Homo sapiens: one gene and its partners. The protein of the gene in region 4 purifies or fractionates together with the protein of the main gene of each other region. This does not show direct contact. Each region holds a gene or a part of one and is shown on either strand. Other genes may lie near its edges.

Region 1 (3,612 bases), on a different chromosome or scaffold from region 4:
CAAAGCCATTTAGTCCCAACCCCCTGTGGCCAGCAGCTGTTCCTGAGGGCCCTGTGCACTGTGGCCATGCCCGTCACTTGCTGGTGACCTTGGTTAGTGCCCCTGGCTGCTGAGGAGATGACAGTGGGCAGGTGGTCCATATGATCACGGGACCCCTAAAGCAGGGCAAGGTGGGGAGAGGCCCCGGCCTCCTCATGGGCCAGGCAGTGCGGGCAGTGGTTTGACCTCCCACACCCACCCAGCAGGCTCCCTTGCGGGCAGACTTGAGTGTGAGGGTGCAGGACAGGCAGGGGCACCCCATGGTGAGGATGCTGGGGGCCTGCTGACCTGCTCACGCATGTCCGCAGTGAAGGGGGGGTCCTCCAGACATTTTCTGTCCTTTTCCTAAGCAGGGCGGGTCAGACCCTCAGCTCCCCAGGGCCCAGGCCCCACACTCCCCTGTGCTCTAAAAGGGTGGGAGGTGAAACCTGAGGAGCGAAGCAGGCGCCCCCAGGGCAGGACCCCTGTGCTGTGCTGAGAGATAGGGCCTGTCCTGAGTCACTTAGGCCTGAACCACCCCCCTCCAGGGGGAAGGGAGAAAGGAAATCTGTTCCCATCCCAGAACGCCTGGCCGGAAAGGGCCTGAGAGGTCACTTGGTCTGACCTGCTCATTTTGCAGATGGGGAAGCCGAGGCCCAGAAAGTGCTAAGCAGGCAGGTAGTGGCAGAGCCAGAATGAGAAGCTTCAGGCTCTGGGGCTGGATCCCCTCCTCTCCCCAATACTGCGGCAGTCCGCAGGGACTGACCTCTAACCTCACTCTTGGCCGTATGTGGACACCACGGAGGAAGGATTAAATGGTGAACATTGGAGGCAGAGACTGGCCCCGGGGCTTTTGCATTATCTCCAAGGGTGAGCAAGGGCCCGGGGGAAGGCATAGGAGGTAGGGAGGAGAAGAGACAGGAAATTGACCAAGCTCACCTGGCTGGCTCTCGTCAGTGCTCTGGGTAAAGCAGTTTTGTTGAATTTTATACTCACACACCTACGTCCACCACCCCACACATGTGTGGCCTGGAGATGGGTTAGGTTGGCTTCTTGGCAGCCCTGCAGCTATGATCTTGAGCCCAATTCTGGCTCCCAGAGCAGATTTTTCCAGGATCCTTCTAGCCTGGCCTTCCGGACAGCCACATTTCTCTCCTGGCAGGAGCTCCCTGGTGGATGGAAGCTTCCGGGCTTCATCCTGTAGCTGTTACACCACTTGTAACAGCCTGCTTGACTGCCGGTCGGTGCCTGTGGGGGGCCAGTGTGGATCACAGGCCTAGAGCTCCCTGGCTGGGGACAAGCACCCATGCCCAGACCCCATGGGGCTCCTGGAGCCCCTGCCCCCATCAGTCACAGCCTCCTTGGTGGAGTTGAGCAGCCTTTACACAGCCTGCCCACCTCCTATTGTCCTCATTTTAGTCTACCCTCTGCACCTTGGTTTTAGAGTGGATCTTGTCACTCCCCAGCTCAAAAGCCTTCCCGGGCTCCCCATCGTCCAGAGCAGCAGCTCCCAGCCTGCCTGGTGTGTCTCAATTCCTACAGAGATTTCTAAGTCCCTAAAGTCACCGAGGCCAGGTCGGCACATCCCCTATCTTCTGTTTGAAAGAATATACCACGGTCACGGCTGGTATAAGCAAGAGGCCTAAGAGCTCAGATAACTCAAAATGCACCTGCTGAACCCACTGCATCTCTTTCGGTGGCTTCCAGGTGTGTCTTGGTTTCTCTTTCGAGGTGTGTCTCCTTTTCTCTTTCGAGGTTTGTCTCGGTTTCTCTTTAGCCAGGACGAGTCCGGGTGACCCTGGTGGGCCTTCCTTTCCCTTCTAGGTGTCATCTCCTTCCCTCCCTTTCCCCCAAGACTCCCTCCGGGCCCAGCCAGCAGGTGAAGCCTGACTTAGGGAAGGGGGGATTTCCAGGGGAGGGGCCCTGGCCCCCACTGACCCAGCATTGCTATCCACAGGAGGAGCAGCCCCCACAACATCGATCCAAGAGGGGGGGCTCAGTGGGCGGCGTGTGCTACCTGTCGATGGGCATGGTCGTGCTGCTCATGGGCCTCGTGTTCGCCTCTGTCTACATCTACAGATACTTCTTCCTTGCGCAGGTGAGGGGCCGGGCCAGGTAGGGGCAAGGCCTCGAGAAAGGGTCATGTCTAGAGAGGCATGGAGGGAAGTGTCTGCAAGGGGGCAGCAGGAAGCCCCAGACATGCCCTCAGGTGGGAGCGAGTGCCCGGCCAGCCCACAAGACTGGGGTGCCCCCTCCTCCTTGGGGCCTCCTTGGATGCAGGCCAGTCCCACATTTAGCCCCTTGTCCTGGGGAGCCAAGCATGAATCCGGGTGACAGCACTGGGCCCGCCCCACAGGGTCACCCTGGGGAATTCTCACCAGAAACTCAGATCTGGCAGAAACTGGAACTGTGATCCCCCTCCACAGCTCAGACCCTGCACCTGCAGGTCACGCTTTAAGGCTGACCTAACTGTGCTTGTGCATGGACATTTGGGTTACCAAACAAGAGAGGGAGAGGGGTGGGTACAGAGAGTCTCCACCACCTCCTTCCAGAAGCAGGAGTGTGTCCTTGCTGCCAACTATCATCCCCCTCCCCGGGGGACCTGGGCACAAAGCTGGGCCAACCCAGACCTGGGAGGGAGGGAGTGTCGCTGTGTGCTTGGAAATGAAAGTAGGTAAATTAAAAGGATAAACCTACGTACAACTCACAGAGAACCTCAGGGTGACAAAGAGGTGGGACTTGCCAGTCATTTATGACCCAAGTGACCTCCCACTCCTAAGCGTTTAACTTTGTTGTCCCCCAGTTTTTCCACGATGGAAATTGCTGAAGAGTTTGCATTCACGGGGCTTTCCCCTTGAAAGCTCAGCTCACATACACCCATCACCTTCCTTTCTGTGCAGCATCCCCCTGCCCCGCCCCACTCCCTCCATGGCCTGCGTCCCCCTCGTTCCAGGGTCCTGTGTGGGACCTTCCCACAGGCCTCTTCCTGTTGTGGCCCTACCCTAGGACCTGGGCCAGCATTTCCTGGTCCCCTCTGTTCCACCCTCGACTCACACCCTTCTCCCCACACCCCAATTCGTTGTGTGGACACCTCCCAGCAGCCCCTGGGTCTGTGCCCTGGGACAGTATTCGGGGTGTCCAGCCACTGTGGGATGCAGCCCCGGAGCCTCACCTTCCCTGGGCTCTCATCCCCGCACAGCCCACAGGAGCCCCCCATGCTGCGATGACGCATCCTCCCTGGAGAACTTGCACTGAATCAAACAGACGGTGGAATCCTGCCGATCCCAGGCCAGGCAGTCCCAAGCATGTATCTACAGGCCCCTCCAGGAGCCCCCTCCAGAAGTAAGAGTGGGCAGACTGGCCCGCCCGGCCATTCAGTTGATGGGATCACACCAGGCTGCCTGGCCTCCCTTACTGATGGAGTGACTGGACTGGCCCACCAGACACAGTGTCTGTCAAGGTTTCTCCAAGACAGGGGTCAGGGATATCCAGGAAGGGCGATGGCACTTGTCCGAGGCTGGATGTGGAGGTAACCGTGATAGGGGCACAAGACTCTTAACAGTGTTGCCTCCAGCTCCACCTCCCCACCCGCCG
Region 2 (3,612 bases), on a different chromosome or scaffold from region 4:
TGAACCTGAATTGTCTCAACACGGAGTGAGCCTGCCTTCCTAAGGCCCTTTCCAACACCAATATTCTACGATGGCAGTGAGAAGGAAATATAGTGTGTAAGGGAAGGATTATTATAAACAATCTTCTTGATTTTTTTTTTTTTTAACTTAGAGATTGAGAAAGGTTGTTTCTAATTATTGCTTGACTGGATGAAAGGTATAATCAAAATATGATGCTAAATTAGTGTGTTTTTCCTAGACTATGAAATTCAGAGGCAAATCAATGAACTTGAGAATGGAGGTGAAATTCTGAACGAAACACGCTCATTTCATCACAAGCTGGGGTGAGTTCGCATTGCTGAGCGTCCTGACCACAGCCGGGGGTGGTGCGAGAGGGCTGGGCTCAGCCACTGACCAGCCATGTGACCTTGAAGGAGGCACGTAGCGTCTCCACTTTTAGGTTTCCTCATTAGTACAATTAGAAAAGTACTGTACCCTTCATGCCTGTAATCCCAGCACTTTGGGAGGCAATGGGCAGATCACGAGGTCGGGAGATCGAGACCATCCTGGCTAACATGGTGAAATCCTGTCTCTACTAAAAAAATACAAAAAATTAGCCGGGCATGGTGATGGGTGCCTGTAGTCCCAGCTATTTGGGAGGCTGAGGCAGGAGAATGGCATGAACCCGGGAGGCGGCGCTTGCAGTGAGCTGAGATGTTGCCACCGCACTCCAGCCTGGGCGACAGAGCGAGACTCCTCTCAAAAACAAAAAAGAAGGCCAGGCGCCGTGGCTCACGCCTGTAATCCCAGCACTTTGGGAGGCCGAGGCGGGCGGATCACGAGGTCAGGAGATCGAGACCATCCTGGCTAACATGGTGAAACCCCGTCTCTACTAAAAATACAAAAAATTAGCCAGGTGTGGTGGCGGGCGCCTGTAGTGCCAGCTACTCGGGAGGCTGAGGCAGGAGAATGGCGTAAACCCAGGAGGCGGAGCTTGCAGTGAGCCGAGATAGTGCCACTGCACTCCAGCCTGGGCGACAGAGCAAGACTCCGTCTCAAAGAAAAAAAAAAAAGAAAAGTACTGTACCCTATAGGGATATAATATACCCTAGGGCTGCCAGGAGGCTTGAAGTGACCCAGACTGTGCCCAAGGGCTTCGTTTTAGGCCCTTTCCTTCTCTGCTTCCAGCTTACCTGCCTTGTGGCAAGAATTTTTACTTCCTTAATCTATCAGATCTTTCCCAGCTGAAGCTAGAGGCGGAACAGAGTGAAGACCTGGTTGTAGAGATGCCTTATTTTTGTTTAGATAACTTGGGCCTTAATTTTCTCACTCAGAATTTTGAGCATTGTATACTTAAAGCAGAATACTGAAAAAAGCTCAAAAGCCGAGTTTGAGCTGGCTGAAAGATGGCTACATTGAAGTCATTTCCTTTAAAAAAAAAAAAAAAAGATCATTCTGTACATTTCGCTTTCTTTATGATTGTTTTTTGAATGTATTCATTTAAGGTTTCCCCATGGAAGTCCACAGAGTTTGATTTTGCCTGTGCCCCTTATTGGTAGGGGAGCCCTTCCCCACATATAGGCTGGCCAGTGCTGCTTTCAATGTTTAATGTTTTCTTATTTAACTATTGCAGGTGCACCATGTCAATGAGAGACAAAGAAGGAAAACAGGACTACAGGTGGTTACTCCTTATGGCAAAATACCGCTATATATCGGGGGCTGGGGCGTATTTCAAGTTCATTTAAAGTTCAACATAATGATCCTGAACAATTTTTAGAAACCACTTTTTGTCATTGTTGTAACATGATGGGACATCTAGACTTCCTCTTTGATATGCATACCGAGAGAAGTACTAGTTTCTTGATTTGGTAGCCTCAGATCTGGTGCCTTGTTTGACTGATTCAGCTTTTGGAAGAACTTGTTCATCCACTGCTGTGTCAAAGTTGTCATAGTTGAGCTAGGAGGATGGCTGTAGAGGTTGGGGCCTAGGCTGTTCTTATTCTAATGTTCAGTAACTGATTCAGTAATACGCTGAATGAAGCTCCTTGAGAAGAAATGAGAAAAGAGATGTTGATAGCGTATGTTGATGGTAGTTCCCTTGAACCTCATATGATGCTATTTCATGATAAATTAAGTTGAACTACTTAATATGAGACCCACAAATAAAGCAAATGCTAAGAACAGGCATAAGATAATTGAAACTTTTATTTTTTTCTCATTGAGTTTAGCAGGTTGAAGTTTTAAGCAACAAAGTTGTGAGATCGGCCACCTTTCCTTTGTGAAGGGCAGAAAGATGCAAATGTAGCTATTATCAATGAGGATCAAAATTTGCATGTTTATGTGGGAAAGAAGAAACTCATAAACGCTTAGCATGAACCTCACCCCAAGAACTCCCATTGTCTGTCTGCTAGAGTCAAAATTATTTTAATTAACCGTGAACTTCCCGGGTGAGTCTGTTCTCCCAGGGGCCCACTTTATTCCTGAGTGTTGCTCCCTCCCCTGTTGGTGCGCCTTCCCCTGAGTGTGGAGTCCGGCTTTCCATCCGCCCGTGGCTTCAGCATGATGCCTCAAATGATAGTGAGCTGCAGGAAGCTTCCCCTGGGTTTCCTCTTGCCCTCAGAAGCCAGACTAACTCACAGAAGAGATCTGGCAGTGAGCCGATGGGTAGCGTGTGCTTCGAATCCATTCCCTCCAAACCACCACTTCTTCTGAATACCCTGCTTTTTCTACATAAGCCCTTTGACAAAAATGGGCAGAGAGTAACCATTAGTGCTGGACGAGAACAGAGGGAGGGACATCTTGTTTCATAAGATTACATGCAATGGTGCAGCTTTGACACTTAAAAAAATTAATTCCCTTCATTTTTTAGAGCAGTTTTAGCTTTACAATAAAATTGAATGGAACGTCCAGAGTTCTCACATACTCCCGCTCCCCACTCTCCCCCCAGAGTCTCCTGTTAATGTGCCACAGTAATGCAAGATGCTCATTTGTTACAATGATGAAACCAATCACACTTCCTTATTGGCTAGAGTCCATGGTTTACACTAGGGTTCCTTGTTTGTGTGGTACATTGCGTGGGTTTTGACATATGCACAATGACATGCATCCACCATCGTGTCACACTGAGAAGTTCCACTGCATGCCCTGTGCTCCACCTCTTCATCCCTCCCTCCCTCTTCTCCAGCTGTCACATTTTGTTTAGGCAAAATCTATTCATTTCTTCTATTTCTCAAGGGTAAATTTTTTTCCTTTCATTTTTTATTTATGTAAATGCTGCTAAAAATAGTAGAAATGTTGAAATGGGGGGAAAGTCATCTTTCCTTCTAATAAGCAAATTGCTCTCATTTGGTCCTGTTTTTTCCAGCCTGTGTCTTTATGAAGACATAGTCCTGCATACATATGGATGTTTCTGTCAACAGTGGATTACGTATGCTACAGGAGTCCCATAAGATTGTCATATGGCATTTTTACCGTCCCTTTCTTGTTCAGACATGCTTAGATACACCAATGCCATTGTGTTACAGTTGCCTGCAGGATTTGGGACACTCAGTAGCCTTGGAGCAGTAGGCTACTCCACATGGCCTATCTGTAGTAGGCTGTACCATCCAGGCTCATGTGAGTGCACTCTGTGAT
Region 3 (3,612 bases), on a different chromosome or scaffold from region 4:
GAAAAACACAAATAAGAAAACAAAAATTAGTCATAAATCAGTATCCGTAGATAATCACCAAATCTCACTGTTTCTAGTCAACTATATTTATGTTTCTAACTTTAAGACAAAAATGGTAGCATATCATATTATTCTGTTCTGTAGCATATATTTTTCATTTAACATTGTATTATGAGCATTTTCCAATGTTATTGGAAGGTTGAAAACCCCAATTATTAATGTCTTTATAGTATTTTTTCACATGGATAAACCATTATTTACTTGACCATTCCCCTGCTGTTGGATGCTTTAAGTTATTTGATTTTCCCCAAATTTTCACTCTTAAAAATAACACCGCTACCGGGCACATTGGCTCATGCCTGTAATCCTAGCACTTTGGGAGGCCGAGGCGGGCGGATTGCCTGAGCTCAGGAGTCCGAGACCAGCCCGGGCAACATGGTGAAACCCCGTCTCTAATAAAATACAAAAAATTAGCTGGGCGTGGCAGCATGCGCCTGTAGTCCCAGCTACTCGGGAGGCTGAGGCAGGAGAATTGCTTGAACCCAGAAGGCGAAGGTTGCCCAAGCCGAGATCACACCACTGCACTCCAGCCTGGGTGACAGAGCGAGACTCCATCTCTTAAAAAAAAAAAAAAAGAAAAAGAAGTAATAATAACACTTCTGTTACTTATACACAAATTTGGTTTTCATCTAAATCCCTTTTCCCCTTCTTCATGAATTGCATTTTTCCACTCTTAAGCATCCCTTTATTTTCTTCCCAGGGATCACAGAAGAGAAAGATGAAGAGCAAATATTTTTCCTTTACTTTGTGTATTTTCTACAAACTTGGGGCCTGCCTTGGTGGCTGTCAAAGTGTCCTTTTTTTAGAGCAGAAAGAGTTGCAGGAAAACATGATGTGGTGTTTCATGCAACATAGTGGAAATGCAGTTTTAGGTCATCAGGCTGCACTTCCTCTCAGTCCGCAGCCCCAGAGCTCTGTAACGAGGATCCCAGTTTTCCAGACTATTGTTATGGTACAGGTCCAAACCCGCCTGCCATCTGGGGAAATGTGTTGCTTGAGCCAAAGTAGGAGCTCCACACTGTGCTTAAATCATTTACCTGTCTAAATAGTTCTCACCTGAGGGGTGGGGGAGGGGTTAAACTCTCCCCTCATTTCAGATTTTTGGAGTTTAATATGGGCCAAGCAACAAGCCCAGTGTGCCTGTTAGTCCCTGAGGAACATTGGAAACTGTCTCTGGGGGGCTGGGGGAGAAATTTTACTTTCCCAAACTTTAGCCAGGATTTTGAATCCTTTCTTTTTGCTTTCCAATATCAGTAAATGCCTAACATGTATTCATTTTCCCCCTATATTAAATGCTTAAAGACTTTTCAATTCCATGTTCAGTTTTAAATCATGAAAAGTGGTTGTTGGTCATTTATGTTGTAACGTGATGGCTTTCCGTCTTCTTTAGGAATAAACATTACAACGGTGGCTATTCCATTGGTGCTCCTTGTTGTCCTGGTGTTTGCTGGAATGGGGATCTTTGCAGCCTTTAGAAAGTATGGTGACTTTACATGTTTAAATTTCTTCTCTAATTATGCGAACAATAAAAAACCAAAAAGTTTATTCTTCAGAAATGCATATGTACAAAAGCAGCATGGCTTCTTTCAAAATAAAATGTTAACTTATATTTTACAAACAAGTTAGATAAAAGTAGAAATGATCGAGTATTACTTTATTAATCTTTTTTTATAGACAGGGTCTCCCTGTGTCTCCCAGGCTGGAGTGCAGTGGTGAGATTGCTCAAACTCCTGGGCTCAAGCAAACCCCCTGCCTCAACCTCCTGAGTAGTTAGGATTACAAGCATGTGCCACCATGCCCAGCTAATTTTTTTATGTTTTGTAGAGATGGGATCTTGCTTTCTCACCCAGGCTGGTCTCAAACTTCTGGTCTCATTTGATCCTCCCAAAGCACTGGGATTATAGGCATGAGCCACCGCACCCCACCATGTATTACTTTATAAGCAGTTCTTGTCATTTAGAGACCTTTGGTAAAGACTTAACCTTTGAGTATTGTTGAAGTATCCTGAAATTGATATATTGCTTTAGAAGTATCTGTGCTTCTCCTCCCTGAAGAGTAAAAGGAATATTAAATAGGCTGCTTGGGGTATCACCAAGCTGCCCCGTAACTCAGCCTCCCCAAGCCTGTTTCCTTATGTATAAAATATAGTTTACCCAGATGAATTCTGAATCTCTTCCAGAACCCTGAGATCCATGTTTATTTTGACAAATGTTAGATGTTGGATCTAAACAAAAAATGGAAAGTATTCTGAAGTTTTCTCTTCTTATATTTTAAGCAACTTCAGAATCTATAATGTGTATATTAGTACAAATAGAATGAAGAATAGTTTCTGCCATCATGAGAGAAGGTACAAAAGTCTCTGGTTCAGGTAGATATTCATAAGTTAAAGCATGCCTTAGTGTAATGTGCTTGTATGAAATGCTTCTAAAGACACCCACAGTTTTGGACTGGAGTATAGTAGAGATGAAGTGAGACCATGTGGTCATGAGGAATTGCTTCAGGATGACTGCATGAGCTAGTGATAAACTTAATAAGGCACTGATTTCTAATATGCAAAATAAGATTAGTATATATTCTTCTAGTGAAATCTTGTGACCTTTCTTATAAATGAGATAAATTTATAGATAATTCTACATATTTGTATGATTTTCTAAAGCACATGGCAGCTGCCATCTCATTTAATTCTCACATCAACCCTATGAGGTAAGTACTATTATGATCCTTATGTTATATAGGGAGAGAGAGGCAGATACATTGGCTTATAAATATTCAGTAGGACTTTTTGTCTTGATAGGAAGAAGAAGAAAGGAAGTCCGTATGGATCAGCAGAGGCTCAGAAAACAGGTTGGTTGAAAACTCTATCTACAATTTTATCTGTCTTTGAGGAAGGGACAGGATCTGCTGATTGAAAGCATAAGGAGGCCAGTGGCCCACATTTATTTGGTTAAAAGACATAAGCCCTGTAGCCTTTAAAGTAGCATATCTATAAGGAAGAAATTTATTGTGTTCTGTCTCTTTATTTTAATGGCCACTTTACTTTTGTTCAATGTCATCCCCTATCATTTGTCAACATCCTTTTTTCTTGGCCACTGGAGTTTAGGCCACGACACTGTCTGCCATCAAGGAGGTATGACAAAAGCCTTATCAGTGAACTGAAGTAGGCCCGTGTTGTTAGCATCTGCAGGCCTGTGCTGTACTTTCCACCCTGAGAAAGTGAGAAAAAGACCAGGCAGGGCTGGTGTGCAGGTTTCAGATAATCCTGCACACCAGCCCCGTCTGGTCTTTTTCTCACTTTCCCAGACACAGGTGCCCAAGCAATGAGTTAGCCATGGTCCAGAGAGAGAGGGCAGTGGGGCAGGACCCCTGAGAAAGCTCAGGGACCATTTGAGACTCCACCTCCCCAGGGTCTAAACACCAGCTGCAGTGTCTCCTCTGCCTCACAGATGCCATGCCAGTGCAGATTGTCGGAGACCATACCCAGATGATCTCACAAAGGGAGAATCTGGGACCTGATGAGGGCAAAATACCTTTTAAAGGCACAGCGGAAAGCAT
Region 4 (3,612 bases):
CAGAATCCCTGTCTTTTGGGGACTTTTGCCCCTATTTTTGAAGTCTCTGGGTGATAAACCACAGGAAAGGCATGGGCAAGGGAAACTTGAAGGACACTCCAAGTGTGATGCTGTGAGTGTGAGGAGCTGTGTCCAGTCATCTGTGTCCTCTGGTCTCAAGGACACTCTTGTGCCACTACCCTGGTGCCTACATTAACTCACTTCCTTACTTTTTGCTCTGAGCTTTCTGGCTATCCAGCTGTGTTTGCCATCTAGGTTCTAAAGGTTACAGGACTGAGATGGGAGTTGGTGTTCTTGGGCAGAAAAGACACTGTATCAGAGATGAGGACATCTTTCTGGGTTCTAGGCTTGGCTTTGTATGACCTTGGACGAGATACTTCACTTTCCCTCTCTGGGTCTTCCTTTTCCTTCTCTGAGCAATAAAAACATTAATCAGGTCATCTGAAAATTTCTCATCATCGATGTTAACTGAACTCGGCATATCATCTCTCTGAGGCTAGTAGAGACGACGTGTTAATTAGTGACTTCAATGATTGGAAATATAGGAGTGAGGAGGAAGTCTGTTTTCACAAGTCCTTGACTTCATTATGCATTTTAGCTATTACTAGTTATTTAATGATTACTATGTGCTGGTTGCCATGCCAAGCAATTTACAGATGAGATCTGAATGGCTTCTCCAATACCTTGATGAGGTGAGTATTATTATTATTCCCATTTAACAGATGAGGAGTTGAGGCTCCCCAGTGGGAAGTCAAGCCAAGATTCATTCCCCCATTTATCTGATTTCAGGTTTCAAGCATTTAACACAACACTGCCTTGCAGTCCTGCCTATGCCAGAGGTAGAATTTTCATTAGTGGGAGTGTCAAGAGCTGGTGGGAGACTTGTGGGGATGAGTTCAGGAGCTGCTAAGATGAATTCAGGTGCATCAGCTCAGTCCTGAACAGCCCTTGCCTCCACCCCTACCCACTTTACTGTTGGGTCATGTCATAGAGTTGTTTCTGGTTGATAATCAGGTTTCACACTTTATGGCATTTATCTAGATGACTTACTACACATTTACACCTAATTCCAAGATCTTACCTCCTTTGAGGGGGACGTTGTCAGGTGAGTTGGGAATGGAGTCCTGGAAGAAAAGAAAGAAAAAAGCAGCATGAGGTGTGACATTCAGTTGAAACAACTTTTTTTTTTCTTTTTCATTTTGTTGTCCTTAAAGTACTGTGCAATTTACAATTCATCCTCCACCTGAATTTTAAAAATTAATTCACTGATGTAGTTTCCAATGGGCTTTCTATCCATTTGTTTGACAATCTATTAGAAATGCAAGATGAGGATTACTGTCCCCGTTCCACAGGCAAGAGACACGGGGTTGAGTGAGATAAAATGACTTGCCTAGGGCCACATAGTTAATTTATAGAAGATCAGGGACCAGAGCTGGGACTTTTTTTTTTTTTTTAGACAAAGTTTTACTCTGTCACCCATGCTGGAGTGCAGTGGTATGATCATGGGTCACTGCAGCTTCATCCTCCTGAGTTCAAGCGATCCTCTTGCCTCAGCTTCCTGAGTAGCTGGGAGTACAGGTGCACACCACTACACTCAGCTAATTAAAAAAAGGAGTCTTGCTCTGTTGCCAGGCTGGAGTGCAGTGGCACTATCTTGGCTCACTGCAACCTCCGCCTCCCAGTTCAGGTGATTCTCCTGCCTCAGTCTCCAGAGTAGCTGGGACTACAGGCACCCACCACCACACCCAGCTAAGTTTTGTATTTTTAGTAGACACAGGGTTTCACCATATTGGCCAGGTTGGTCTCGAACTCCTGACCTTGTGGTCCACCCGCCTCAGCCTCCCAAAGTGCTGGGATTACAGGTGTGAGCTATCACACTCGGCTAGAGCCAGGACTCAACTCCCAATCTGGTGCTTTTCCCCCCTCCATATGTTTGGGTGTTTTTTTCTTTTTTTTTCCTTCTGGTCAACATGAGAATAATCAAGTATATCATAAAAGTAGATGTGTTTTTTTTTTTTCCATGTTTGATTCATCTGTGAACGTATGTTGTAAACATACCTGGGAAGGTACATCTCTATGTCTCCTGTGGTTGGAAATTCTGAATTAATTGTGTGTTTATATGCCAAGCATTGTGAGGACACCATACATAATTAAATTGGGTCCCCATCCTTATGGATTTATTACAAGTTTATATTTAAATATACAAATATGTATACACATGTAGTATACATACAAATGCATATTATATATTTAAACATTTACATAGTATATTATTTATTCTGTAATAAATATATACATAAATATTTACACAAATAAGAGGTTGATAGAAACAGATTGTCTTTTGAAGGAGGGAATCCTGGGCTGGGGATTGAAGGTGACTAAAGGGAGGTTCTAGTTCAAGGACTCTCAACAAGGAGTTAACAGAAGCAGAGAGGCACAGTTCTTTTCCCCTAATAAATTCTTCAGACACTAAGTTTCACACCCTGATTGTCCCTCCCCTTTCTCTCCAGCCATGGAGACACCCATACAATATTCTGCCAATAAGGAATGAAGTATTTTATTCATCTTTTGACCTGCCCAGGTTGGAATCTCCTGTATTGCATTGAATTAAAATATTAGTAAAGACCTAGAGAGGTGTGAGCGTGTGTATGCGAAAAAACCAACTTCCTAACCTCTACCAAAGCAAGAAATTAGCAGCCGCCCACAGCTTATTTTCTTAGTGTTCTGTATGAACACTAGGACCATCTGGAGTTCCCCTATTATTGTAACATTTCCCTGGGAGGTCTGTCATTTGCCTTCCGCTGAAAGCTTGTTTTCTTATGAATGGATCTCTTCTCTAGTGCAAGAGGTTGGTAGTGAGTCAAGGAGGTCTCCTGAAGGCAAAGCCCTGGCACAGCACCAATCTGGAGATGGGGGAAGTCAGCTTAAACATTTGGGCCCTACCTTCTCAGGGGAAGGGAGGCAAACTTGTCCTGGAAGGCCCTTCCTACTGTAACAGTCTACGACTTTGTTGCCTTAGTTGAAAGCTTTTAACCTAACAAAGCTAAGTTTTTGTAGTCTTTCAGTTATGCATGCAGTTTGCAGGAAAACTTGATATCACAAAATTCCCCTTTATGTTGCCCTTGTGAGACAACACACAACATTTTAAAATTTAATAAACAACTTACAACTTACTGCCAAGCGTGACCATTGATTAGCATGATGTGCAAATGCACTAAGAAAAATATCTGCATTGAAATGTCTTACCACAATCATCAAATTCATCAAGCTGCCCAGGGACATATACAGGGACAGTGAGAGAGGCTAGAATAGCAAACCTGGTACAGCCATCATTGCAGAGGCTGCTAGCAGTTCGGGAAGTCCTAGAGAATCATTCATGCAGCACACCTTGAATGAGCACCTGGTCTGTGGTAGGAACTACGTTAGTCACTAAAAGACATCCTATGGATTTTATGCTTTAGTCATTAAGGCAGCCATTTAAAAAATATAAATAAATGTGTAATTAGAATTGCAGGTTGTGGCAAGAGCTATGGAGGAAAAGAATCATAGTGCTTTAAGGTAGTGCTGTTAGAACTTCAATGTGCATATGAATCACCTGGGAGTCTCGTTAAA

What was found.
Region 1: the proteins of TNFSF8 (region 4) and ITM2C purify together in Homo sapiens (co-immunoprecipitation; 2 studies listed by BioGRID and IntAct, with this or other methods). This does not show direct contact.
Region 2: the proteins of TNFSF8 (region 4) and GATB purify together in Homo sapiens (affinity purification with mass spectrometry; 2 studies listed by BioGRID and IntAct, with this or other methods). This does not show direct contact.
Region 3: the proteins of TNFSF8 (region 4) and DCBLD1 purify together in Homo sapiens (co-immunoprecipitation; 3 studies listed by BioGRID and IntAct, with this or other methods). This does not show direct contact.

Annotation. Positions count from the first base shown.
Region 1 is NC_000002.12:230,871,442-230,875,053, forward strand, and holds part of ITM2C (integral membrane protein 2C), read left to right. Parts: intron 1-1,975; coding exon 1,976-2,116; intron 2,117-3,612. UniProt on the Homo sapiens protein: Negative regulator of amyloid-beta peptide production. May inhibit the processing of APP by blocking its access to alpha- and beta-secretase.
Region 2 is NC_000004.12:151,701,896-151,705,507, reverse strand, and holds part of GATB (glutamyl-tRNA(Gln) amidotransferase subunit B, mitochondrial isoform 1 precursor), read left to right. Parts: intron 1-238; coding exon 239-323; intron 324-1,612; coding exon 1,613-1,657; intron 1,658-3,612. UniProt on the Homo sapiens protein: Allows the formation of correctly charged Gln-tRNA(Gln) through the transamidation of misacylated Glu-tRNA(Gln) in the mitochondria. The reaction takes place in the presence of glutamine and ATP through an activated gamma-phospho-Glu-tRNA(Gln).
Region 3 is NC_000006.12:117,541,674-117,545,285, forward strand, and holds part of DCBLD1 (discoidin, CUB and LCCL domain-containing protein 1 isoform 1 precursor), read left to right. Parts: intron 1-1,450; coding exon 1,451-1,538; intron 1,539-2,854; coding exon 2,855-2,904; intron 2,905-3,612.
Region 4 is NC_000009.12:114,917,015-114,920,626, forward strand, and holds part of TNFSF8 (tumor necrosis factor ligand superfamily member 8), read right to left. Parts: intron 1,125-3,612; coding exon 1,082-1,124; intron 1-1,081.